Homo sapiens: one gene and its partners. The protein of the gene in region 1 purifies or fractionates together with the protein of each later gene. This does not show direct contact. Each region holds a gene or a part of one and is shown in the gene's direction. Other genes may lie near its edges. The genes, in order: DYRK4, ATP1A1, HERC3, RANBP2, RLIM, PRICKLE3 and RNF138.

Evidence for each region.
Region 2: the proteins of DYRK4 (region 1) and ATP1A1 purify together in Homo sapiens (affinity purification with mass spectrometry; one large-scale study listed by BioGRID and IntAct). This does not show direct contact.
Region 3: the proteins of DYRK4 (region 1) and HERC3 purify together in Homo sapiens (affinity purification with mass spectrometry, with the first as the bait; one large-scale study listed by BioGRID). This does not show direct contact.
Region 4: the proteins of DYRK4 (region 1) and RANBP2 purify together in Homo sapiens (affinity purification with mass spectrometry, with the first as the bait; one large-scale study listed by BioGRID). This does not show direct contact.
Region 5: the proteins of DYRK4 (region 1) and RLIM purify together in Homo sapiens (affinity purification with mass spectrometry, with the first as the bait; one large-scale study listed by BioGRID). This does not show direct contact.
Region 6: the proteins of DYRK4 (region 1) and PRICKLE3 purify together in Homo sapiens (affinity purification with mass spectrometry, with the first as the bait; one large-scale study listed by BioGRID). This does not show direct contact.
Region 7: the proteins of DYRK4 (region 1) and RNF138 purify together in Homo sapiens (affinity purification with mass spectrometry, with the first as the bait; one large-scale study listed by BioGRID). This does not show direct contact.

The regions. Positions count from the first base shown.
Region 1 is NC_000012.12:4,610,708-4,614,207, forward strand, and holds the end of DYRK4 (dual specificity tyrosine-phosphorylation-regulated kinase 4), read left to right. Parts: intron 1-1,835; coding exon 1,836-2,011; intron 2,012-2,804; coding exon of another isoform or gene 2,805-2,807; coding exon 2,808-3,046; 3' UTR 3,047-3,168; downstream 3,169-3,500. UniProt on the Homo sapiens protein: Possible non-essential role in spermiogenesis.
Region 2 is NC_000001.11:116,379,744-116,383,243, forward strand, and holds part of ATP1A1 (sodium/potassium-transporting ATPase subunit alpha-1), read left to right. Parts: intron 1-3,500. UniProt on the Homo sapiens protein: This is the catalytic component of the active enzyme, which catalyzes the hydrolysis of ATP coupled with the exchange of sodium and potassium ions across the plasma membrane.
Region 3 is NC_000004.12:88,700,480-88,703,979, forward strand, and holds part of HERC3 (probable E3 ubiquitin-protein ligase HERC3), read left to right. Parts: intron 1-3,500. UniProt on the Homo sapiens protein: E3 ubiquitin-protein ligase which accepts ubiquitin from an E2 ubiquitin-conjugating enzyme in the form of a thioester and then directly transfers the ubiquitin to targeted substrates.
Region 4 is NC_000002.12:108,767,982-108,771,481, forward strand, and holds part of RANBP2 (E3 SUMO-protein ligase RanBP2), read left to right. Parts: coding exon 1-407; intron 408-1,278; coding exon of another isoform or gene 1,279-1,356; intron 1,357-3,500. UniProt on the Homo sapiens protein: E3 SUMO-protein ligase which facilitates SUMO1 and SUMO2 conjugation by UBE2I. Involved in transport factor (Ran-GTP, karyopherin)-mediated protein import via the F-G repeat-containing domain which acts as a docking site for substrates.
Region 5 is NC_000023.11:74,594,125-74,597,624, reverse strand, and holds part of RLIM (E3 ubiquitin-protein ligase RLIM), read left to right. Parts: intron 1-1,624; 5' UTR 1,625-1,647; coding exon 1,648-1,816; intron 1,817-3,235; coding exon 3,236-3,319; intron 3,320-3,500. UniProt on the Homo sapiens protein: E3 ubiquitin-protein ligase.
Region 6 is NC_000023.11:49,176,374-49,179,873, reverse strand, and holds part of PRICKLE3 (prickle planar cell polarity protein 3), read left to right. Parts: intron 1-67; coding exon 68-181; intron 182-485; coding exon 486-623; intron 624-1,398; coding exon 1,399-1,602; intron 1,603-1,694; coding exon 1,695-1,881; intron 1,882-2,671; coding exon 2,672-2,971; intron 2,972-3,500. UniProt on the Homo sapiens protein: Involved in the planar cell polarity (PCP) pathway that is essential for the polarization of epithelial cells during morphogenetic processes, including gastrulation and neurulation.
Region 7 is NC_000018.10:32,112,374-32,115,873, forward strand, and holds part of RNF138 (E3 ubiquitin-protein ligase RNF138), read left to right. Parts: intron 1-1,371; coding exon 1,372-1,487; intron 1,488-3,500. UniProt on the Homo sapiens protein: E3 ubiquitin-protein ligase involved in DNA damage response by promoting DNA resection and homologous recombination.

The DNA.
Region 1 (3,500 bases):
GTTTCAGGGCCTGTCCCCCTCCCCCTAGGATTTAGTACCCAAATCGTCTTATATTAGGGAATTAGGGGGAAGGTGAGCTGTAAACCATTTATTATGTACAACTTTTTATAATCTATATGCATATTTTGAATCTTAGAAATTAGATCTGTACTTAAGTCGTAGTACCCAGCACAGCACCCAGTTTAAAAGGTGTTTAGAAAACGTTAGCTATTCTTATTATTTTACGACTATTAAAGAGGTAAATCTATCTCCACAGAGTGGCAAGTAGATTATCCATGTGATACTTGGCAAGTCATCACTTTTTTCTGGGCCTCAGTGTTCTTTCCTATAAAATACGGTATTCCTAAGCTCCCTTCCAGTTCTATCAGTCCTATAATTTAGTATTTTTAGAAGACCATATCATTACAGTCTCTTATTCTTCCAGTTGGATGGAGTGATGTTATCAAAATACTCTTCTGGCATCTGTGCTCTCTGGAATTTCAGTACTAGCTCAGAGGGTGAACCATGAGGTAATGATGAAAGTATTCCCATCGTAGGGGGTCATGCTATTCACTCATCAGAATAATCAAGGTAGGGAAGGATCCTGTACCCCATCTTTACCCCTACCTTAACAAATGACAGAAACCAACTGCTGAGACAGATGGGTTATCCAGAAACCTCAACCATCCAGAACACAGCTCAGCACCAAGGAAGGCATTATTTTCTTCTTTAGTGCAAAGGACTGATTACTCATAACTTGCAAGAGGCAGTCAGGCTGATGGGGACTGTTATCTTATATATATATATTGCTAATTAGAAAATCTTTGAGACTAAAAGTTTTGAGCCAAGTTCAATAGGCATAAATGTAAAGCCCCGTGTCTAGACTTTGTAGGCGAACTCCAGAAGTCCAGGAAAGGAGAGATGTTGTTTAACAGCAATTCATTTGACACAGAAATGAGAGTTTGAGCTGTTTTAGGACCTTAATGAGTCTAGAATGTTAATACTGTCTCCCTGCAGTTATAGAAGCTATTCCCACCATGATGGACACCAGTTAGACAACTGCTAAAATATCCTTATTTCAGAAGGTGGTCAGATGGTGAAAACCATATCATATGATCATTAGTTAGTAGCGATGTAAATATTTTCAGATGGTTGAAGGACTGAACCATAAAATTAGGATAGTTATTTTGTGTGATGGTAATGTGTTGATGAATTAGGACCTGGGTAAAAGTTACTGGGAAGCAAACCAGTTTTGGCACAATAAAAGTCAAGAACTTTTAAAGAATCGGAGTTTTTTCAGAATTGGAATAGATGGTTCTGTGAGTTAGTATCTTGTCACTGAAATTACTCAAGAATTGCAGGGTGATTCCATGATGGTAGTTCAGTCAATGTATTCTGCTACTGTATTACAAGTTTGATTGGATTATATCCAAGTCCCCTTGCAAATCTTAATATTCTAGAATTCTGTAAATCTCCTTGCAATATTTTTGAAGCCCCAATTCTGTAGTCTGGAAATTGAAATCTTTGTTTTAATATTCTTAGCTTACCAAACCCTAAATCCTATTGATTAAGCTTTTGTAAAATAATATTTCTTATAAGGAAATTTCTAGGAATGCTGGAAGACTTGGACTGTAATATATATTCCCTGGCTTGTTATACACATCTTCTAAAAAGATTATTTCCATTAGTTGTTTCCAGGTACTTTTAAGTTATATGCCATAATCTCTGTTCTATGATTATATATCTTTGAGATATCAACATAGCTTAAATAAAAATCTTTATTGGGTTTTAAAAATGTTTTAATATATTAAAAGGAAATAAAACAATAACCCATGTGGGGCTTTGTTGGGGTGCAGATGGGAACCTTCTCTTCGCATGACCCCGGACCAGGCCCTCAAGCATGCTTGGATTCATCAGTCTCGGAACCTCAAGCCACAGCCCAGGCCCCAGACCCTGAGGAAATCCAATTCCTTTTTCCCCTCTGAGACAAGGAAGGACAAGGTTCAAGGCTGTCATCACTCGAGCAGAAAAGGTACAGCCTGTCAAATAACCAGTCCTAGTCCCACAGTCCGGGAATTAATATTCTAGAATTCTGTAAATCTCCTTGTGATATTTTTGAAGCCCCAGTTCTGTAGTCTGGAAATTAAAATCTTTGTTTTTAATATTCTGTTTAATATGCTGTTTAAGCATTTCTGAAGGATTTGCATGTCAATTTCTCTAACCTCAACCTGGGATAATTCTTGTGGCTACATCATGACTAGCCTGCCATTTCTTACCTTTGGGATTTTCCTTTTCAGGGAAATTTGGCATTAGCCTGGATCTTTTTTGCCCCTTATTAGGATTTTCCATTTTTCTCCTATAATCAATTTCCTTTCTCCTCCTCCCTTTTTCATTAACTGCGTCCACCCCTTTATGCCCTATAATTACCTTTAGAATTTCTGTCAGTGCCAGATTATGGCATTATGCAAATTTTTATATGCAATATAGCCTAGTGGTTAGGTACATGGTCACAAGAGTCAGGTTACCTGGGGATTAAATTCTGGTTCTACCACTTATCAGGTGTGGACTTAACCTCTCTGTAGCTCAGTATCTCCATTTATGAGAATGAGAATAAAGCCTGTTCTCCAGGGTCGCTGAAATGATCAGACGAATTAGTAAATGTACAGTGCTTAGAATAATGCCCGGCACATTGGAGGTGCTTTACAAATGAACTGTTTTTATATCATCACGGTCATCGTTTCCACTAAGTGATGTACAACCTAAAGGACAATTAACATATAATCCACATTTGAATCTTGTTCCCTTCTGTCTTCTCTCTCCTTTAGCAGATGAGATCACCAAAGAGACTACAGAGAAAACAAAAGATAGCCCCACGAAGCATGTTCAGCATTCAGGTGATCAGCAGGACTGTCTCCAGCACGGAGCTGACACTGTTCAGCTGCCTCAACTGGTAGACGCTCCCAAGAAGTCAGAGGCAGCTGTCGGGGCGGAGGTGTCCATGACCTCCCCAGGACAGAGCAAAAACTTCTCCCTCAAGAACACAAACGTTTTACCCCCTATTGTATGACCTTTGCTGAGGGTATGTCCTGCTCCTTTCCACCAGTGATTTGTATTAAGACAGCACTTATATTGTACAATACTTCAGACTGTTTTTTTTAAATACATAAAACTTTATGTTAAAAAACTCTATTAACATGGCCAATTGGCATGACTCCTCTTATGAGGGATGGGGGAGGATGTCCTTGCACTTAAACTCATTCCATATGCATCTGTGTGTGTAGAGGGGGCGGGTAGTTTTGAACTCTCAGTGTTACAGCATCATTAATGGAACTCCAAACAAAAGAAATTTTTTTTCTTCTTGCCCATGACTGCCAACCTATGTCAGGATTTTTGTTTGAAAATGATAGAAGCTGAATTCAAAAGCAGTTTAAACAACGGAAGACACTTATTGACTTACATAATTGGGGCATCAGAAAAGGTAGATGTAGTTTCAGGCGCAGCAGGATCCAGGAATTCAAATG
Region 2 (3,500 bases), on another chromosome or scaffold:
AGAATACTTTTACATACACAATTGTGTTGGATGATTTAATAATGTATCGACCAGGAAAATGAGAAAGCACCCCTCCCCCTTACCTTTTACATTGAAGGTAGCCCAGACTTGGCAGCCTCTAGGGAACCAGCAAGGTCAGAGTCCATCACACAACTTTCCTGCTAAAGTGGTATTTGCCAAATCATGTCCAGAGGTGTTGTTTCTACAATCTTCTTGGCAACTCCGAAATGGGCTGCATTTGGGGCACTTCCTTTTGCCATCCTTCTGGCCCTTCTTGCCCGTCAAAAGCTTTTGTCTGTGGGCTTTGGAAATAGTCCAGTTTTTAAGGTGTTTTATTTTTCAGAGTTAATGGTTTCTTGACTAATCAGACTATGAAAATGCCTTCTCTAGGTTCTTTAATAGTTATACCAAGTGTTATTCCCATTTTAGGAATGAAGAAACTAAGGCTGACAGGCAAAGGTCATGTAGCCAGCATGTGGCAACACTAGAATAAATTGGCAGACTCAACACCATTAGCAGACCTGTCTGGAGGGAATGGTGGGTCTTGAACTTTCAAGTACCCTCTAAACTTTTTCAGCAGGAATTTCAGAAGTCTCAAGAATTCTGAGCTCCCTGCTGGCCATGGGACATTGTGCTGATATGGTGGGAAAAATGCAGGTTGAGAAAGCCTTCGCATCCTGCCCTGTTGGAGGCTGGTGTTTGGGATGGGTATGAAGGCCTTTGGCGGTGGCTATAGCTTATGCAGACCTGAAGCAATATACCTCTGGGATGGAAGATCCTGCTTATTTTGGGATAATTTCTAAATCTGTCATATCTATCCCCAACCCTGTCCCCATTAAATGGCTAATTGCCAAAAAAGAGGAAGCAACATCTTCAGCTCTAGCAAGTCTCGGGGATGTCTCACTCATTGTGAGGACTGTGAGGATTCGGTATATATTTTTAAGTGAGTGAACCTTGTTACATGTTTTAACCTTGGTTCCTCCTGTCAAGAATTTTATCTTCTCATGTCTTGGGCACCTTTTCCCTCTACCCAGATCAAATAGCAAAATGCTTAGTTAATCTTTGAGAGGATAGAATCCATGGGAAGCACAGGATGAAATGATGACGCTGTGCTAAGCTGTGTCACCGTGGGTAAGCCCCTGCCCTTGCTGTGACTTTCCACTTCCTAAATTAGAATGGAAGGGGGAAAAAAAAAAACCATAACCCAACTTCATTTTTATGAGTGGCCCTTTAGAAAATAGTGTAATCCGTTGAGTTTCCATTGTACCTTTCCTCAGAGATGCTCAAAGGGGCGGGGGTGCCCTTACATGGAACATGATGAGAGTGAGGATTAATCACTCCCAGTCCTCTGGGAGGGGGGAAGTGACCTGAACTTTCTAATTGAAAAAGTAGGAAGTGTGTGCCCAATGCCCAGATGAGTGGGAAGATTACTGTAGTTGATTGAGGAAATGCCGTATTTATCATTCACCCTTCCCATGACCTTTGTTTTTCCCTAATGCCTTAAAAAATAATAAGGAAACATTGTCCTACCTGATTCTACCACTGTTCATCTCACGCAGTGTGCACTCCCTGACTCTGAATTTTGCAGCTTTGAGACTGAGGTAATTGAGACTGATAGGGATTTAAGGATATTTGGTTCCCACAAGAATAAGCTAATATTAAGTTATTATTTTACTTGTGGAGAAGAACTAAATTGTATAAGCTGCCTGGTTCTTCTAGACACACATTGCCTAGTGAAAAAATTAAAATTTTGAAGAAAAAGCAGTTTTACTTGTTAATACTTGCCATGTGTCTCACCCACAAATAGCCTCATTTAAAACTTTGCCTTACCTAGCATGAATGGATAAAGAAAAAGGAGAGTTATTAGGGAATCTAAATTCCCAACTAACTTTAGCACTGATAGTGGTGAAGCTATGGGCAAGACATTTATTTTGTAAGTGGGGGTAAAACTTTGGAACGTGTTCAAAGCCTAGCTGCTCTAGTAATCCTCTCTCCTCTTCTGGAGTGGAAGATATTGGAAGTCTGAGAATAAGCAAAGCATGCAGATTATGAAGCTGAGGGGTTATAACTATTTCATTTATTGAAATATATTTCAATGATATTCAACTTGCTCAGAGAGAATCCGTGAGCTGTATTTTAAAAATCAATACAGGCTGGGCACGGTGGCTCACGCCTGTAATCCCAGCACTTTGGGAGGCCGAGGTGGGTGGATCATGAGGTAAGGAGTTCAAGACCAGCCTGGCCAAGATGGTGAAACCCCGTCTCTACTAAAAATACAAAAATTAGCCAGGCGTGGTGGCGAGCGCCTATAATCCCAGCTACTCAGGAGGCTGAAGCAGGGAATTGCTTGAACCCTTGGGCGGAGGTTGCAGTGAGCTTAGATTGCGCCACTGCACTCCAGCCTGGGCGACAGAGTGAGACTCCATCCCCAAAAAAAAGAAAATTAATACAAAGTGGTCACATAAATCTTTTAGAGATCCTTAGTCAATGTCTTTAAAATGTTTTTTAAGTGTTGTGCTTTCTCATTAAAGGTATGATATACCTTTAATTAAAGCTAAAGATATACCACTTTAGCTGTGGTTCCTTTCTGGTAGATGACCTGCCTTTTCCTTTTTGTTTTATTTGTCCACTTGTATGTGTTACTATTTTTCATTTAAACTCTGGCACCAAGAGCTGTACCGAAAGAGGCACCAACAAATGTGGTTGCTCCATAATGGAGAGAATGTCAAGAATGTTGACTATCTTTAGACCTGCTTCATTAATAGATAAGATAGAAACTAAAGAACCCACCCAGTTGGAAGAAGTTATTAGTCAAGTAGTGCTGCACACGTGACCACAGAAGTTAAAAAGGTAAATAATGTGTCTCTACATGTGGCCCACTCCAGTGAATTTGGAGAAGGATTTCTCCTTGGAGTCTTAAGAGGATATTTTTAAATTTAAGTGAACAATGTATTTTATTTGCAACTATTAGTTATGACTGAAACACACATAATACGTTTTGATTTTCTTTTTTCATTTCAGCACAGTGAAATTATAATCTGGACACGAGTTCCTAATTATTGCTTTAGTAGCTGGTAATGCACTTAGGAAAGTTAGAAATGAGTAAAGGAGAACCACAAAATAATAGTAATAGCACCATATGTCATGCATTTTAAGAAAATTGCTAATGTCTACTTTTTGGCCTTAAGTTGTAGTTGTGGGAGGCTGCTTCAGGGGGAGGTGTCTGGAACAAGGGGCTCTTCTGCTCCGCTAAGCTTTGGAGCACCAAGTTCAGGCTTTGTGTAGATAAGCTCAAGGATTTTTCAACAGGGGTGGGGGAGTGGAACAATCTAAATTTAAACTATAGAATCAACATTTTCTTTAAAAATTGTTCCAGTTTTCAAGAGGCGTAGGTGGATCCTGTGAATTATGTGATAATGCACACGCTTTTCCTACATCCTGCTTATGTCAAAACATTTCCAGAGACTTTCATTTTGGAGGTTTTATTTTCAGGCTACAGA
Region 3 (3,500 bases), on another chromosome or scaffold:
TTCCTGAGACTGTTGAGCTATTTCTACCAATAGTCCCTTAAGTGAAATCTAGGTTTTTCTATCAAGCTCCTCAAAACTCTTTCAGGCTCTACCTATTTCCTCATTTCAAAGGCACATCTGCGTTTTTAGGTATTTGCTGTTGTAGTACTGTACTTCTTAGTACCGAAATCTATATGTCAGTGTTCTCCAGAGAAACAGAACCAACAGGGTGTGAAGCCGAGGGGGGTGGGGGCAAGGAGGGATTTATTTTAAAGAATTGGTTCATGTGATTGTGGGGGCTGTCAAACCCGAAATCTGCAGGGTAGGCTGTAAGGCTAGAAATTCTGGCAATAGTTAATATTTAAATCTTGAGTCCAAAGACAGTCTGGAGGGAGAATTCTTTCCTCTTTGGAGGACCTCAAGTCTTTTTCTCTTAAGGCCTTCAGCTGATTGGATATGGCCTACCCACATTATGGAGGGTAACCTGCTTTACTCAAAGTCAATGAATTTAAATGTTCATCCCAACTAAAAAAATATCTTAACAACATCCAGACTGGTGTTTGACCAAACAACTGGATGCCATAGCCTAGCCAAGTTGACCTATAAAATTAACCATCACAGTCTGTAATAAAAATTGTTGTGATGGTGTTTCTCTTGGGTAATTGTATCAGAAAAATGTCATTAGTTTAGTGTCATGGGTTTCAGAGAAGTGAGGTGTTATATACGGTGTGAGAAACTTTCAGCATCAATGATTAACATGCACAATAATCTTTTTACATTAGTGGCTTTATTTTAAAGATTGCACAGTTATACCATTTTAAAAATGGGAAAAGGGAGGCTTACTAGTTAGATACAGAAGATGGCAGAGCCTGGATTTGAACCCCTGTCTGCCTCACTTATCCACTGTATTACACCATTTGTTGGCTAGTTATTGGTGTGGATGGTGAACATGTAAAAACTATCTGCTTGGAGGAAACCCAATAATTCAAATGTAGCTTTATGAAGTATTAAATTACAGTGATGGATAAGTAGTAAATAACTATCTTCATGATGTGAAGTTTTAAAATTGTTTTTAATCTAAAATACAAAAAGTTAATGTGACAAACATTTGTATATATGATCCACAGTCAACAGGTATTTGCTTCAGATTTTTTAATAAAAGAAAAAAATTACTGATACCGCTGTACATACCCTTAATTCCAAATTACTGATACTGTTGTACATACCCTTAATTCCATTCCCCTCTTCCCGCCCTTCTTTCTTACACAGACAAAACTCTTATGAATTTGATATGTTTTTTTTATGTTTTTATACTTTTTATAATAAACATGTATGTTAAAACAGATTTTTTTTTTTTTTTTTGAGATAGGGTCTTGCTTTGTCACCCGGGCTGAAGTACAGTGGCGTGATCATGGCTCACTGCAGCCTTGACCTCCTGGGCTCAGGTGATTCTCCCACCTCAGCCTTCTGAGCAGCTGGGACTACAGGCATGCACCACCAGGCCTGGCTAATTTTTTGTGGAGACTGGGTCTTGCCATGTTGCCCAGGCTGGTTTTGAATTCTGGGCTGAAGCCATCTGCCTGCCTCAGCCTCCCAAAGTGCTGGGATTATAGGCATGAGCCACTGCACCTGGCTAGACAAAGATCTTTTTACATTAATGTCTTTGTTTTTAAAAATGAACACTTACACATCTTATGTATGCATCATATTTATAATTTCATACTCATAAGCAAAATCTCATATCCATAAACAATATGATAATACTAGTTAATACTTACAAAGTAATTGTTATACACCAGCCTTGGTTTAAGCACTCTTACATGTATTCACTCATTTAATCCTAAAGCAGTCCCATGTGTTATCTACTCTTACTCTCCCCCATTTTACAAATGAGGACACAGGCATGGAGAAGTTAAATAACTTGCCCAAGGGTCACAAGCTCTGAGTGACAGAGCTACTACCTTTTATAAGTAGCATTGTTTTAAGTGTTAAAACACAACTTACATAAATGCCATCATATTTTACTGAACATGCAAATACTTGATTTTCACTCAGCATTGTTCTTGAGATTCTATTCATTTTGCTAAGTTTAGATCTAGTTAATTCCATCAAAGTGCTCTGCTTTATGGTTTCCATCATATGACTCTACCATCTTTTCCTTGTCCATGTTCATATTAATGGATGTTTAGTGTTGTTTCTCTAAATTCTCTATATTGCAAGAAAATGCTGCAGTAAACTTGCCTGCACTCATCTTCTTGTGCACACATGTTAGCGTCTCTGCATTACCTACCCGCTAGCACAGTGGCATGGTCAAGGGTATTTACATTTTCAACTTATCTAGATATTGACAGAATTTCCCCCCAAAATGTTTATGTCTAGGTTCACAGTTTATATTTCCACTTGTGAGAGACTGAATATTCCTATGGACAATGGCCAGGCCATATATAAATAAACATGGAGCTGAGACCCACAATCTGCAGCAACCTGCCCGGGAAACCAACCTCTTATCTGCAATAAGCAGCCCAGGAAGCCAGCCTGCTATAAGTCAGACTTGCAGGCAGCCTGATTGCCATCTGTCTCGATAACTTCTGTAACAGTGGGCCCAAATAGGCCAGGATGTGATTAATAATCAGCAGCTTCCCTAATTTTTGTTCCTACTTCCAACTTAGGGCCAACCAGAGAAAGCCAAATACACACCCTTAACCAGTCACATAGGATGCCCCACTTCTAGTTAGCCCACCTGCAGCTTCCCCAGACTAGCAGCCTCCAATCAGAGTGTACCTGAAGCCTTCCCTCTTTCCACTGTAAAGCTTTTCCACTCCTCTGCTTGATTTTGAGTCTCTGCCACAACACAAGTGACAGTGGCTGACTCTCTTGCTATAGCAGCTCTGAAAAAATAGCCTTTGCTCTTCTCATTTGGTTGATCTTTATATATTTCCATGGTTGCGATATGGTTCCCATCATTTCAGTTTATCTTCCTACCAACTGCCTATGAGGTTTCTGTTTTCCCCACACCTTCACCATATTGATATAATCTCATTTTTAAACTTAGGCCAGTCTGATGAGTGCAAATGACAATTCACTCGTCTTCATTTGCATTTGCCTGATTATTAGTGAGATGGAGCCTTTATTTGAGATGGTTCTTCCCAGAGGTAAAGGTTTTATAAACAAGGAGTTATAAAATGAACCTTTTAAAACAGGTGAGGATACAAGTATCAAGTGGTTTAGCTTTATTTGTTTCTGAGGAAAATGGCCTAGAACTGTTATCCTAGACTTTTTATTTTAAGCAGAAAAGGTCTTATTATTTTTTCCACACTAAATTTTAAGCAGGGCTTTTAACATGAAAACTGGAATACCTCAGGTAAAGCCAGTAGTTTAGTTCTATATACCTGGCCTGCTGCCCTTCCTATCTGGCTTATCCTGCCTTGGATCACCTGAGGCACTTGGTGGAATGTTAGGGCTGGGGATGGAGAGGGAGGAGAGGAGAGCTGGTAACCTATATGATGCCTTAGGATGCCTCC
Region 4 (3,500 bases), on another chromosome or scaffold:
TGTTATTCAGGGTGATGATGTAGCAGATGCAACTTCAGAAGTTGAAGTGTCTAGCACATCTGAAACAACACCAAAAGCAGTGGTTTCTCCTCCAAAGTTTGTATTTGGTTCAGAGTCTGTTAAAAGCATTTTTAGTAGTGAAAAATCAAAACCATTTGCATTCGGCAACAGTTCAGCCACTGGGTCTTTGTTTGGATTTAGTTTTAATGCACCTTTGAAAAGTAACAATAGTGAAACTAGTTCAGTAGCCCAGAGTGGATCTGAAAGCAAAGTGGAACCTAAAAAATGTGAACTGTCAAAGAACTCTGATATCGAACAGTCTTCAGATAGCAAAGTCAAAAATCTCTTTGCTTCCTTTCCAACGGAAGAATCTTCAATCAACTACACATTTAAAACACCAGAAAAGGGTAAGTACTTTGTTGTTAAAGTTAAGCACAATTTTTCTTTCTTTTAATGTTTAGCTTGATGCAGACTCTTTGTAGGATACTAATGTTGGGATATAAATGATGCTTTGTGAACACCCCCAAAATATTTGAGCAATTTTTTTTCTCCCTTAATAAGTTCACGGTGAGGTTTCAAAGAGCAAGAGAACTTAGTTTAAGACATTTCAGTAACTGGAAGATACTTTTATCATGCTAGGGCAGAGCAAAAGAACTCGGTACGGTATACGGACTCATGCTTGAATCATGCACATTAACGTGAGTCTTTTTTTAAAGTGTTCATTTTCATTTGTTCAGTTTCTTTTGTCACTCAGAAAACATGATATTGAGGCTGGGCACGGTGGCTCACTCCTAGAATGCCAGCACTTTGGGAGGTTGAGGTGGGCAGATCACTTGAGCTCAAGAGTTCGAGACCAGCCTGGCCAGCATGGTGAAACCCTGTTTCTACTGAAAATACAAAAATGAGCCGGGCGTCGTGGTGCGTGCCTATAATTAGCAGCTACTTAGGAGGCTGAGGCAGGAGGATCACTTGAGCACAGGAGATGGAGGTAGCAGTGAGCTGAAATCATGCCACTGCACTCCAGCCTGACTGAGTGACTGAGACTTTGTCTCCAAAAAAAAAAAAACAACGTGATATTGAGATGTTCTCATTTTATATGTTGTATGTCAGTCTTGCTCATGTATTAAATGAGCAAAGAATGAAACTACAGGGATAAATGAATATGTAAGACAATCAGATTGGTGGTATAAATTGAGGGATTCTGGCTTTTTATGTTTTAAAAGCATATTCATTTTGTTTCCTAAAATGTTAAAAAACGAAATATTCTTTATTTTCTAGGATTTAATTTTAGCCTTTTTAAATCTAATCCCATGGCCTTTTGGACTAGCACCCCTTCCTCACAGCCTGAGAGCAAAGGTATAGAACTAGCATTCTCAGTATGAGATAACAGCAGTTTTTAGCAGCTGGGTAGCCCTTAGCAAAGTATTAATAACTGTGGCTGTATGAAATGAAGTACTTACCACTACAACATGCATGTTAAAGAATGCCAGTTTAAGCAAAGTACCTTTTGACTGGTGGCATGACACCCTTGTTGGTTTGTTTTTTAAAATGTACTGGGATGCTGATTTGTAATGTACTTCATTGCTCTGCTATTTCAGGTCTGCTCAATGAAGACCTATGTTTTATCTAATGTTTATGTTTAGCCACTAACGTCTGCCAGTATTCAAATGTAGTGGCAACGGCATGTATACAATATGGAAGAGTGTCCCTGTAGGGCTGTTCTTTTGTGCATGGTTTAGAAAAATGTTGTATTTGAAAATGGACCCCGTTTTTAACAGCCAGCATTCTACAGCTTGCATATTATATATGTTGCACCGATCAATTTTAGAAGTGTGGCTACTAGAGTGGAACAAGAAGTGGGATCTGTTGAAGGCCTTCAAGAACAGGTTAGGGAAGTGAAATCTCACCCTTAGTGACCAGTAACACATCTTAGCCATGCCAAACAAGTACAATGATAAAGTAGCAATCTCTGATTTTTTTTTTTAAGTATACCAGTTTTATTACTAGCTAAGGTAGCTCTTAATCTTTTATTTTTAAAGATACGGTCTTTGAGAAATGTGAAAAGTGTTAACTTAAAAGTGGATGTATACTTGCGTACAGTTTCTGTGAGCTCTAGGTTAGGAATCCCTGACCTAAGAATGAATGTGCCTATATACTACTGTAGAACATAGAGCCTTATTTTGTTTTGAATCTGATAATGTCATTGTCCCAAGGGACCTTAGAAATGAAGACTTTAGACATGAGTAAACTGAGGCCAAGAGAGGCTATCTGATTTACCCAAGGTGTCTTTACTGAGTAATAGCAGAAGTGGAACAAGAATCTGTATCTTACGGTGTACTGTTATTTCTCCTAGCTAGAAAATGATACTAAGTTTTTGTTTATAATGAAGGAGAGGGACAAATTTAACATTGTAAAAGGAAGGGCACTGGTTCTGCAGAGCAGTGTCATCCAGTAGAAATAAAATATAACCTGTGTATGTAATTTAAAATTGTCATTTGGTGCAATGGCTTGTGCCTATAATCCCAGTTACTTGGGAGGCTGAGGCAGAGGGATCACTTGAGCCCACAAGTTCCAGGCTTTAGTGAACTGTGATCACATCACTGCACTCCAGCTCTGGGTGACAAAGCAAGACTGCATCTCAAATAAATAAATAAATAAATAAATTTTCTAGTAGCCATATTAAAAAGAATAAAAAGAAACAGTTAAAAAGGGAAACAGATGAAAGTAACTTTATTGATAGATTTGATTTAACTTATGTCCAAAATATCATTTTAACTTCTAATTAATATAAAAATTAATGATATTTTACATTATTGTTTTTCACCAAGTCTTCAAAATCCAGTGTGTGTGTTTACACTTACTGTTAGCACGTCTTGATTTGGACTAGCCACCTTGTGAGGTTTTAATAGAATGTGGCTAGGCTACCATATTGGACACCATAGCTCTCAGAATGTTTCCCTATCACTAGTTGGTATACATGGCATGCTTCATGACTGGCTTGCTTTATTAAACTCCTTTAGCCAGAAGTTCAGAACAGGTTGCATATAGAAGTTTTTTCTCTTTCTAATTTTTTGCCCTTTGCATTGATGGTGGCTGGGGATGGGTTGTTTTTAGCCATATGAATGGTCTTAGATTTTATAGTGTTAGCTACCTATAGAGTCACAGTTGTTATTTAATTTTACTTAGTATCATGCTTGAACATAGGCAAACTAGATGCAACTCTAGTCACCTTCCATTCTTGGCAATTGTTAACTTTCCTTACAGAAACTAATCACAGTTGGCTTTGGATTAGTTTCATATGTATAGTAATACTTGCCTATGTTTTAAGATTTTTTTCAATTGCTGCAAATGCATGGATATTTTGGTAAACTATTGTATGCTAAGTATAGTTAGGCAACACTTTAAAATTTTTAACCTTTATAAATTCTAGAAATTTATAGTAATTCTTTTCAATGACTATTAAGTAAACACAAATTTTTTTTTGTTTTCTTTGGTTTTAA
Region 5 (3,500 bases), on another chromosome or scaffold:
TCCAACTAGGTCTTTTTCCATTCCATATATATTTTTACCATTCCAGTAGTAACATATCTTATTATGAGATTCTGCTTCAGGTTTTGCTGAATTAGTTTTCTCAACTTTGAAAATATTCTCACCTATGATTATTTCATGTAGACTACACATAGGGGCTACTTCTGCAGTTCAAACTCCTTGAATAATCAACACTTGGCTCTTTGAATAAACAATAACTTAAGTAGTATCAGTTACATTTGTCAACAAATCAAGAGCCAAAGAGAAAACCACTCCATCATTTACCTTATTTTTCAGTTGATTAGTGACATTGCTTTTCAATATTCCCAGCTTTTTGGACCACTATACTTACCAAAAGTCCAATATTATGTTTATTTTCTCTGGACACATTTCTTCAGCTTCTGCACTCAAACATAATTTCACTAACTCACCATCAATAAACAGCTTTCCTCGTTTAGCCAATAAATGAGCCCCTGGGAAATTTACTTTGATTGAAGCCTCATTTTTATTTTTGTGAAGAAATATTTTGTGATGAGATTTCACTTTAAATTTTCTAACTTTTTGAACTGTAGTTTTCCTGTGAATTGGGAATATTGTCACTAGTGTTTAATAGTGTCAGTATATATTGTATTTAGTATATAGTATTTTTTGCATAATCATGCATTCTTTGCCATCTAATCTGATTTTTGAAAAACCCATCCTCTGCTGCACCTTTAAGCGTGACATTCAGAGTCCACTTTTCTCTTTGTTTGAGATGATGAGTGTATACTCAGTTTTTTTTAATGTCCAGTGTGAAGGCACTTGAAATGCTGTCATTATAGCTACATCACTGCAACTTAAGAGTGCACAGAGCAGCAGTCCAAAGCAATGGGAGTGCCACATACAGTCTGTCACAACTGCTCAACTCTGCCATTATAGCACAGAAGCAGCCATAGATAACATGTAAATGAATGTGTATGGCTGCGTTCCAATAAAACTTTATGAACACTAAAATGTGAATTTCATTGCATTTTCATATGTCACAAGATAGTCTCTAAAAACCATTCTTAGGTTGCAAGGAGAATAAAAATATGCAGCACGAGGCTGGGTGCGGTGGCTCATGCCTGTAATCCCAGCACTTTGGGAGGCTGAGGAGGGCAGGTCACTTGAGCTCAGGAGGTTGAGACCAGATTGGGCCAACATGGTGAAACCCTGTCTCTACTAAAAATACAAAAATTAGCTGGGCGTGGTGGCAGGTGCCTGTCGTCCCAGCTACTTCGGGAGGCTGAGGCAGAGAATCACTTGAACCCAGGAGGTGGAGGTTGCAGTGAGCTGAGATCGCACCACTACACTCTAGCCTGGTTGAGAGAGCGAGACTCCATCTCAAAAAACAAAAAATACCACAGTATGGCTGGATTTGGCCCAAGGGCTTTAGTTCGCCAACCCTGTCTGGTTCAAGGGCTGTAGTTTGCCAACCCTTGACCTACTCTTAATATAACAGTGCTTTTCAGGAGTTTTTGTTAGGAAATTTCATTTGAGGTCTGAAAATCCATCTCTAGACCTACATTCTGGATTTTCACATAATTAAAACTTGTATAGAATACATAGTGACCTTTATTTTCAAGATTAGTCTCTTTTCTCTTTTCAGGTATTTTCCACTTGTTCATCAATATGGAAAACTCAGATTCCAATGACAAAGGAAGTGGTGATCAGTCTGCAGCACAGCGCAGAAGTCAGATGGACCGATTGGATCGAGAAGAAGCTTTCTATCAATTTGTAAATAACCTGAGTGAAGAAGATTATAGGCTTATGAGAGATAACAATTTGCTAGGCACCCCAGGTATGCTTACATATATTTAAGGATTTATAAGTGTAAGTTGCTGGTTTAAAAAAAAATGCTTGAACCTGTTTTAAAAATCCATTTCTTTAGCCCTTATGAAATATTATTTAACATAGGGGATATGGAATGACATTTATTGCTGTATTTATTACCTGATTATATTTACTGATGTTTGGAATTACACTATATCAGAGAGATTTTTAACTTATGAATTATGAATTTTTAGCGAACTGAATTGAAAAGAATGGAGCTAAATCTTTTTTTTCTTAGTTAGCTTTATCTAACTTACTAGATAAGAATCCGAGTGTGGAATAGCTAATGGGAACTTAGTTTTTAGGAAAGACTTATTCTGTTATCTCTGATTTTCTGAATATGTCCCAGTTGTAATCCTCCAGAGCTAGCCTTGGGTAACATAGCAATTAGAAGTTTGTGCTTAATTATCTTTTACCCCACTAAGTCCCATTTGATCCTAGTTAAAAGTCAGTATCTGTCTTCCTCTTCATTTCTGTTTAATTCTACTTACCTTTGAGTAATTGCTTAGATTTTAAAAGGTAAGGTTTTAGCATGACTTTTAAGAGAGGGAGTGTGTTTTTAGCCAACAATACCAGGCTTGAATCAGAATGCTTTAGGTGGAGTTCTGGCCCTGCTGTTTGGTGTGGCTCCTGGCAAGCCAGTCTGTCGCTCAGTCTGTTTCTTAATTTTAAAATGCAGATAACAATATCCTCCTCTCAAAGCTGCAATTCTTAAAAATTACTTACTTATTTATTTTTGAGACAGGGTCTCATGTTGCCCAGGCTGGACTCAAGGGATTCTTCCGCCTGAGTCTCCCAACGAGCTGGCACTACAGATGTGGTACCACTGTGCGCCCAGCTTAGAATTGCCTTTGCCTTTTTTTTTTTTTTTTTTTTTTTAAGCAGAGTCTTGCACTTTCGCCCAGGCTGGAGTGCAGTGGTGCAGTCTCTGCTCACTGCAACCTCTGCCTCCTGGGCTCAAGCGATTCTCCTGCCTCAGTCTCCTAAGCAGCTGGGATTACAGGCACCTGCCACCATGTCTGGCTAATTTTTGTATTTTTAGTAGAGATGGGGTTTCATCATGTTGGCCAGGCTGGTCTCGAACTCCTGACCTCCGGTGATCCACCCGCCTCGGCCTCCCAAAGTGCTGGGAGTACAGGCGTGAGCCAAAGTTAGATGTTATATGCAAAAGAACTTTGTAAATTGCTTTTAATATGTTTCCAAAGAAGTGAATTTTTCCCAGGACCTACCTACTCCTTGGTTTTTCTTTTTGGTTTGAAAAAGTTTTCTCTTTTAAAAATATGATTTTTTTTCTAATCATCTTGTGTCAGATTACTGTGAGTCACTGATAAAGTATTTGATTGTCATACCCCTAATGTCATCTTTGCCCTGTGGTGTTAAATTTCAGGTGAAAGTACTGAGGAAGAGTTGCTGAGACGACTACAGCAAATTAAAGAAGGCCCACCACCGCAAAACTCAGATGAAAATAGAGGTATGTTTTGGTTTTGGTGGGGAGGTGGATAGACGATGGGATGATAGGAACTTTGTAATAGTAAATGTCAGCCAAAGATTATCCAGATTTGGCACAAATTAATTTGGTGCTAAGTAACTGCTCATAAAAAGAAAACTGACATTTTCTTGATACTTAGAATGTCAGCATTTTTTTTCTACCT
Region 6 (3,500 bases), on another chromosome or scaffold:
GCCATCTCACTGCATCCCAACTCACCTCTCATTTCAGTTGTTTTCTCCCACTCCTATGTCCTCCCAGGTATATCAATTTTTCAGCTGCCTCCCAGAGGACAAGGTCCCCTACGTCAACAGTCCTGGGGAGAAATACAGGATCAAGCAGCTGCTGCACCAGCTGCCCCCACACGACAGTGAGGTGAGGAGAGAGAAGACAGGAAGGGCATGCCAGGCACAGCACACAGCCTGGGCCAATGCAGGGCAGGGTCAGAGGAGGAAAGGTGAGCTGATCTGAGGTGAGTGGTCCAGACAGGCAGGGGTCATCAGGGGACATTCCTTGGCAAAACCACAGCTGGGCCTTGGAAGAAGAGGTGGTTACTTCAGGCAGGAGGCACCATCTATAGAAAGACCTAGAAGTAAACTTTCGGGGCATGGATGAAGTCTGGAAGAGGGGCAGGGACAGGCATCAAGGGAGGAGCCTGGGAGATGCCTTCTCCTCCCAGGCACAGTACTGCACAGCACTGGAAGAGGAGGAAAAGAAAGAGCTCCGAGCCTTTAGCCAGCAGCGGAAGCGGGAGAATCTGGGGCGTGGCATCGTGCGCATCTTCCCGGTGACCATCACTGGGGCCATCTGTGAGGAGGTGAGCCGTGGAGGGCCTCAGCGAGTGAGCAGTGCCTCTGCTCCAAGCCCTGGGGAGCAGGACACATCTTCCAAGCACTGGGAAGATGAGGCCTGCCACTTAAGCCCCAGTGAGGTGTCTCTAGGGTCCCCTCTTGTGGGCGGGGTCTGTTCCTCACATCTCACTGTTGGGCAGGGACTGTCTCTAAGGCAACCCCTGGTGGACAGGGACCTGTCCCATCAATCCCACTGTCGTGTGGGGTTTGTCTGTAAGGAGGCCTTAGTGTGTTTTTCTCCCCGTCTGTGCAGTGGACATGGGGCATGGGCTATCTCTTTGGTCCTCCTGTGGTCAGAACTTGTCCTCAAGAGCTGACCCACAGTGGCAGGGCCTGTCTGCAGGGCCCAGTGGTAAGCAGGGCCTGTCCTTAGATCCTACTGTTAGGTGAGATCTATTGCTAAGGTCCCGGTGGGTGGAGACTATCTCTGTGGTTTCCCCCACTAGGCCTGGCCTGTCTGTCTTCCCCACCCCTGATGAGGGAGGCTTGCCTATAAGGCCACCCACCATGGGTAGGGCCTGTCTCTACGGCTTCCCTCATGAGCAGGGTCAGTCTCTAAGGTACCGCCCAACCCCATCCCTGGTATAGGCAGGGCCTGTGTCAAAGTTACCCCATGGGTGGGGCTGATCACAAAGTTTCACTGTGGGAAAGGCCCAAGTGTAACATACTTTGGCTGACCCCATCCATCTGACCATCTTGGTGACAGTGATGGTAACCATCTTGGTGCTTGTCTCATGGCAGTGCGGAAAGCAGATTGGAGGTGGGGACATCGCAGTGTTTGCCAGCCGTGCAGGCCTGGGTGCCTGCTGGCACCCACAGTGCTTCGTGTGTACCACGTGCCAGGAACTGCTGGTTGACCTCATCTACTTCTACCATGTTGGCAAGGTCTACTGCGGGCGTCACCATGCCGAATGCCTGCGTCCACGCTGCCAAGCCTGTGACGAGGTTTGGGCCTCCCTGCCCAGGGGTGGGAGTTGAGGGTGGGCAGGGCCAGGAGCAGGCTCATCTGACAGCCACAGATGGCCTGCGCCCTCCAGATCATCTTCTCCCCTGAGTGCACGGAGGCTGAGGGCCGCCACTGGCACATGGATCACTTCTGCTGCTTTGAGTGTGAAGCTTCACTAGGAGGGCAGCGCTATGTCATGCGTCAGAGCCGCCCCCACTGCTGCGCCTGCTACGAGGCCCGCCACGCGGAGTACTGTGATGGCTGTGGGGAGCACATCGGTGGGTGAATGCTGTGGGACTGGACAGAGGGATGGATGGACAGCTGGGCCACAGTCCTACCCCACCAGGACTCCTCCTGTCCTCCAGGCCCCATCCTCCATTGTGCCCTGTACTTTGTCCAGCCCCAACACTATAGACCTGTACGCTTGGTTGCAAGTCCCACTCCCAATGTCCCCACTATGCCATGCTTTCTAAACCCCACCTAACACAATGCTAGGCCACCACCACATGTCTACACCCACCTCCAGAGGGTGCTCTAATTCCAGCCCCAGGGCTCGCCCTACTCCTAGCCTCTACCACCCCAAGCTGTGCCCCGTTCTCCTCCACTCTCCTGTATCAGCCTAAGTCAGGCCTAGCTTCTAGCTACACCCTATCCTCTGAGAACCACTCCTTTCTCAACAGGGCCACTCCCCACCTGCTAAGCCCTGCCCCCACCAGCCAGGCCTCCTCTTCAGGCCCAGCTTTCCATTCTCCTTCCACTTGGAGCCACCCCCTAATGTCTAAGCCTGGCCCGAATCTTAGAGTCCAATGCCCACCCCGCTCTGGGAGAGAGCACCCTGGGAAAGAAAGGGAGGAGTGAGAGAGAGGTTCACCAGCCAGTCTCCAGGAGAGAACCAAAACCTGTTTCCTGCTTTCTCCAAAAGGGCCCCATTCTGGAGGAGGGAGGAAGGCACCCAGGGGTGCCCTGCCTCGGATTCCCCACCTCTTCTTGAGAAGGGACTCGTTCACGAGGGGTGGGGTTACGCCTGGGGGTTCTGCCTCAGTTTTTCCCCCTCGTCGTTCCCCACAGGCCTGGACCAAGGCCAGATGGCTTACGAGGGCCAGCACTGGCATGCCTCAGACCGCTGCTTCTGCTGTAGTCGCTGTGGGCGGGCCCTGCTGGGCCGCCCATTCCTGCCACGCCGAGGCCTAATCTTCTGCTCTCGAGCCTGCAGCCTTGGGTCCGAGCCCACAGCTCCAGGGCCGAGCCGCCGCAGCTGGAGTGCCGGCCCTGTCACAGCCCCACTTGCAGCCTCCACAGCCTCTTTCTCTGCTGTGAAGGGGGCATCAGAGACCACCACCAAAGGCACCAGCACAGAGTTAGCGCCAGGTGAGCTAACCCTCTAGCCACACCCAGCCACAGCCCAGTCACCCCTATGTCCTTGCCCCTGCCTCAGCCCTGGCCCTTCCTTCTTGACTAGCCCAGGCCCTTCACCTGCTGTATCCCTGGGCCCCGCCCATTTCTCAGCTCATCCTCCTTCCCCACACCAGTCCAGGCCTGGTTTCCATCCCAAACTACACCCGCCTCATGAACCCTGGTTCCACCCTGTCAATACAGGGCTGGTCCCCTACCTCAACTTGTCTCTGCTTGACCCCAAGTTCCTCTTCCTCTTCTCCAGCCGGTCACCCTTCATCCTCTGCAGTCAGGCCCCACCCCTTTTATTGCAAACCAAATCTACTCCAGCCTATGCCACACCTCTTCCATCCGAAGCCACCCCGGGTGCCCTGGCCACGCCCCCCACACCAGTCCCATCTTGCTCCGTGTTCTTCCTTCCAACCCTCTCAACACCCAGAGCCTGCTCCAGGCCTCACACTTCCCAGACTTCCCACCTCCCTGCCATTCTCCGACCCCTGCCCCC
Region 7 (3,500 bases), on another chromosome or scaffold:
ATTTATGTATGTATTTAAGAAATCACAAGGGCCGGGCATGGTGGCTCATGCCTGTAATCCCAGCACTTATGGGAGGCCAAGGTGGGTGGATGACCTGAGGTCAGGAGTTCGAGACCAGCCTGACCAACATGGTGAAACCCCGTCTCTACTAAAAATAAAAAATCAGCCAGGTGTGGTGGCGCATGCCTATAATCCCAGCTACTTGGGAGGCTGAGGCAGAATTGTTTGAACCTGGGCGGCAGAGGTTGCGGTGAGCTGAGATTGCGCCATTGCACTCCAAACTGGGCAACAAGAGCGAAACGCTGTCTAAAAAAAAAGAAGAAGAAAGAAATCACAAAATATTTGGTTAATTTTAAGGAACATGTAGGAAAATCAGGTGTTAACAAATAACCAGCATTAATTCTCTAATCTGGATTTTATTCTATCATTTGGAGAAGGAATAAAATAGAGAGGGGTGGTTAGGCTTTGAGTATATCCATGTGTCTATAGATTTATCACCGACATTTTTTCTAATAGCTAATGAATTCAGTGAGCAAAGCTGGTTGCTATTTCATGCATTCACACAAGTCAGATCTGCTTTTACATCTTTTTGAAGGAAGTGTTTAACTGACAGGGCAATGACGTGAAGCTGGAAAACACACTCGAGAGATTCTGGCTATTCCTCTCAGTGAGAAACTGAAAAATGTTCCAAGTATTCCTGGCAACTTAATTTTTTTTGAGACAGGGTCTCACTTTGTCACCCAGGCTGGAGTACAGTGGCACAATCTCGGCTCACTGCAGCTTTGACTTCCCAGGCTCTAAGCAATCCTCCTGCCTCAGCCCCACAGGTAGCTGAGATTACACCTGGCTAATTTTTGTATTTTTTGTATAAACAGGATTTTGCCATATTGCTCAGGCTGGTCTTGAACCCCTGAACTCAAGCAGTCCACCCATCCCAGCCTCCCAAAAGGCTGGGATTACAAGCGCGAGCCACTGCACCCAGCCAGGAACTTAATTTTTTTTTAAGTGCTTTCTAACTCTGCCAGGCTGCAGAAGTTAAATAATAAGACATGCCCAATAGCATCTGGCATCCTCTTAGTGCTTTTAATTTTTTTGTCTACTGCTGGTAGTGTCTTTTCAAGTGTGAAGTTATTTGCTGTTTTTTGCAGTGAATTTATAGACAGATGGACTCTTCTCCATCTCTACATTTAATGAACAGAAATGTATTATCTATTCTTAACTCCTACTTAAGGATGAAATCATTTACTTTAAAAAAATACAACTCCTGTTTAAATGGAGTATTTAGTTACTTTTATTTTTTCCTCTCTTTACACTATTTCAAATCTTACGAGTTCTATTTTAAATTAAAAGTCACATTTTAATAATTTACAGATTAAATTCTATCGCATGAGACATCATTACAAATCTTGTAAGAAGTATCAGGATGAATATGGTGTTTCTTCTATCATTCCAAACTTTCAGATCTCTCAAGATTCAGTAGGGAACAGGTAAGCAATACTTATTCCTAAATACAGAATTTTCATAATTGAAATGGAAATTGTTTTGGGAACTATATGATAAGGTATTTGGGGGGATGTGTGTGTGTGTATGTGCACATGTGTTTTTAAAGTGAATTGCCAAGTATCAGAACTACAGCATTTGCCTTAAAATCTGTTTGGCACACGTAAGCTCTCATCTGGGAGATGACTTCATGAACTTCAGCTTATGTTATTTAAAATCATTCTAAGAATTTTCATTTTTTTGAGTAAAAAATAAGTTGGAGATTTTTCTCTTACTGATTTTGCAACTGAAATGATTTGAAAAACTATAGAAAATCCTTTTCAGTAATGTATTTGCAAACTACAACCTGTTTTTTCTTTGCTATCTAAGGGATAGACTTAGAGTTTGAAATTTTTATTCTAAAATGTCATGTAAAAATGAAACCAGGTGCAGTGCAGTTCTGTTTGAGTCTCATTTCTTTTAAACAACTAGATTTGGATTGATTTGTATCTTATCTCAGATTCATGTACATTAAACATTTTTATGAAATGTATTTTACACAGAAAAATGGCCAAAATGCACTTGTGGTTTAAAAAAATAATGATTAACATCCAGTTACCTATTAACCCAGGTCAAGAAAGAACATTTTTCAAAACTTCAGGATCTCTATGTGAGCTCCTGCCCATTTGAACCGTACACTCCTAGATGCAACCACTATTCTCTTATTTGGATTATTCATTCCTTTGATTTTCTTTATGTATCATCACCCATGCATGTATCCCTAAACAATGCATTGTTAATTTTGAAAACTTCAGTAGTAAGCACATACGTAACTGTAAGGAAAGACAATATTGCCACTATTATAGAAAGGTTCCCAGGAGACAGTATGTTAAGCAGTCTCTAATATTTTATTTTAGTAGCCTTTCATTTTACATATTGCTAATTTTTAGTAACTTAACCGCCCTTAAGCACTTCATGTTGATCATACTACATTAGGCGTCTTCCCTACTCAGTTGAAATTTCTGGTAAAAACCTTTAGTGATTGTCTGGTAAAGATCTGCAGTAATTTTCTGATTGCCTAGTCTGAAAAAACTTCAGGTTCTCATTTTACTTGACTTGTTAGTGTCAAGGAAATTTGTTTGAAAGTTGTTGCTCTTATAGTTTTTTTTTAGTCCTTCTGGGTTTCTTCATTTCTATGTTTTTCTTATTGTTGTACTTCTACTTTATTGTAATTTCCTATCTGCTTTTTTACCCAATAGATTGTTCTTAAGTGAGGGGATGGTGTTTGTCTTGTTGAGCATATCTCCAGCTTTTAGTAAAGTTCTTAGTATACATGATTGTAATCACGCTTTTAATGACCAAATTTTCTTATCAGGAGACAGGCCTTCCTCCCCCTTATTTCTTAGATCCACTTGGTCATAGACACTTGATTCCTAATAGCAATATTCCTCATCTGTACTTTTATTTTATCTTGTCACTTCCCTAGCTCAGGCCCTCATCATCTCTCACTCGAACTATGATAATAGCCTTTTTAGCTGGTAGTTATCCTCTAATCTGTTTTACATTCTATCGCCAAAGTAATATTAATGAAGTATAAAAGACAAAATTCTGGCTGGGCGCGGTGGCTCACACCTGTAATCCCAGCATTTTGGGAGGCCAAGGTGGGCAGATCACTTGAGGTCAGGAGTTCAAGACCAGCCTGGCCATCATGGTGAAACCTTGTCTCTACTAAAAATACAAAAATTAGCTGGACGTGGTGGCGCGTGCCTATAGTCCCAGCTACTTGGGAGGCTTAGGCAGGAGAATCACTTGACCCTAGGAAACGGAGGTTGCAGTGAGCCGAGAGCACATCACTGCACTCTAGCCTGGGCGACAGAGTCAGACTCCGTCTAAAACACACACACACGCACACACACGCACGCACGCACACACACACTTCCTTATTCCAAAGCCCTTTCTGATCTGGCCCTTTCCTCTCTTTTTATAGCCTCTTTCTTGGTTATCCATCGTTGCATCACATG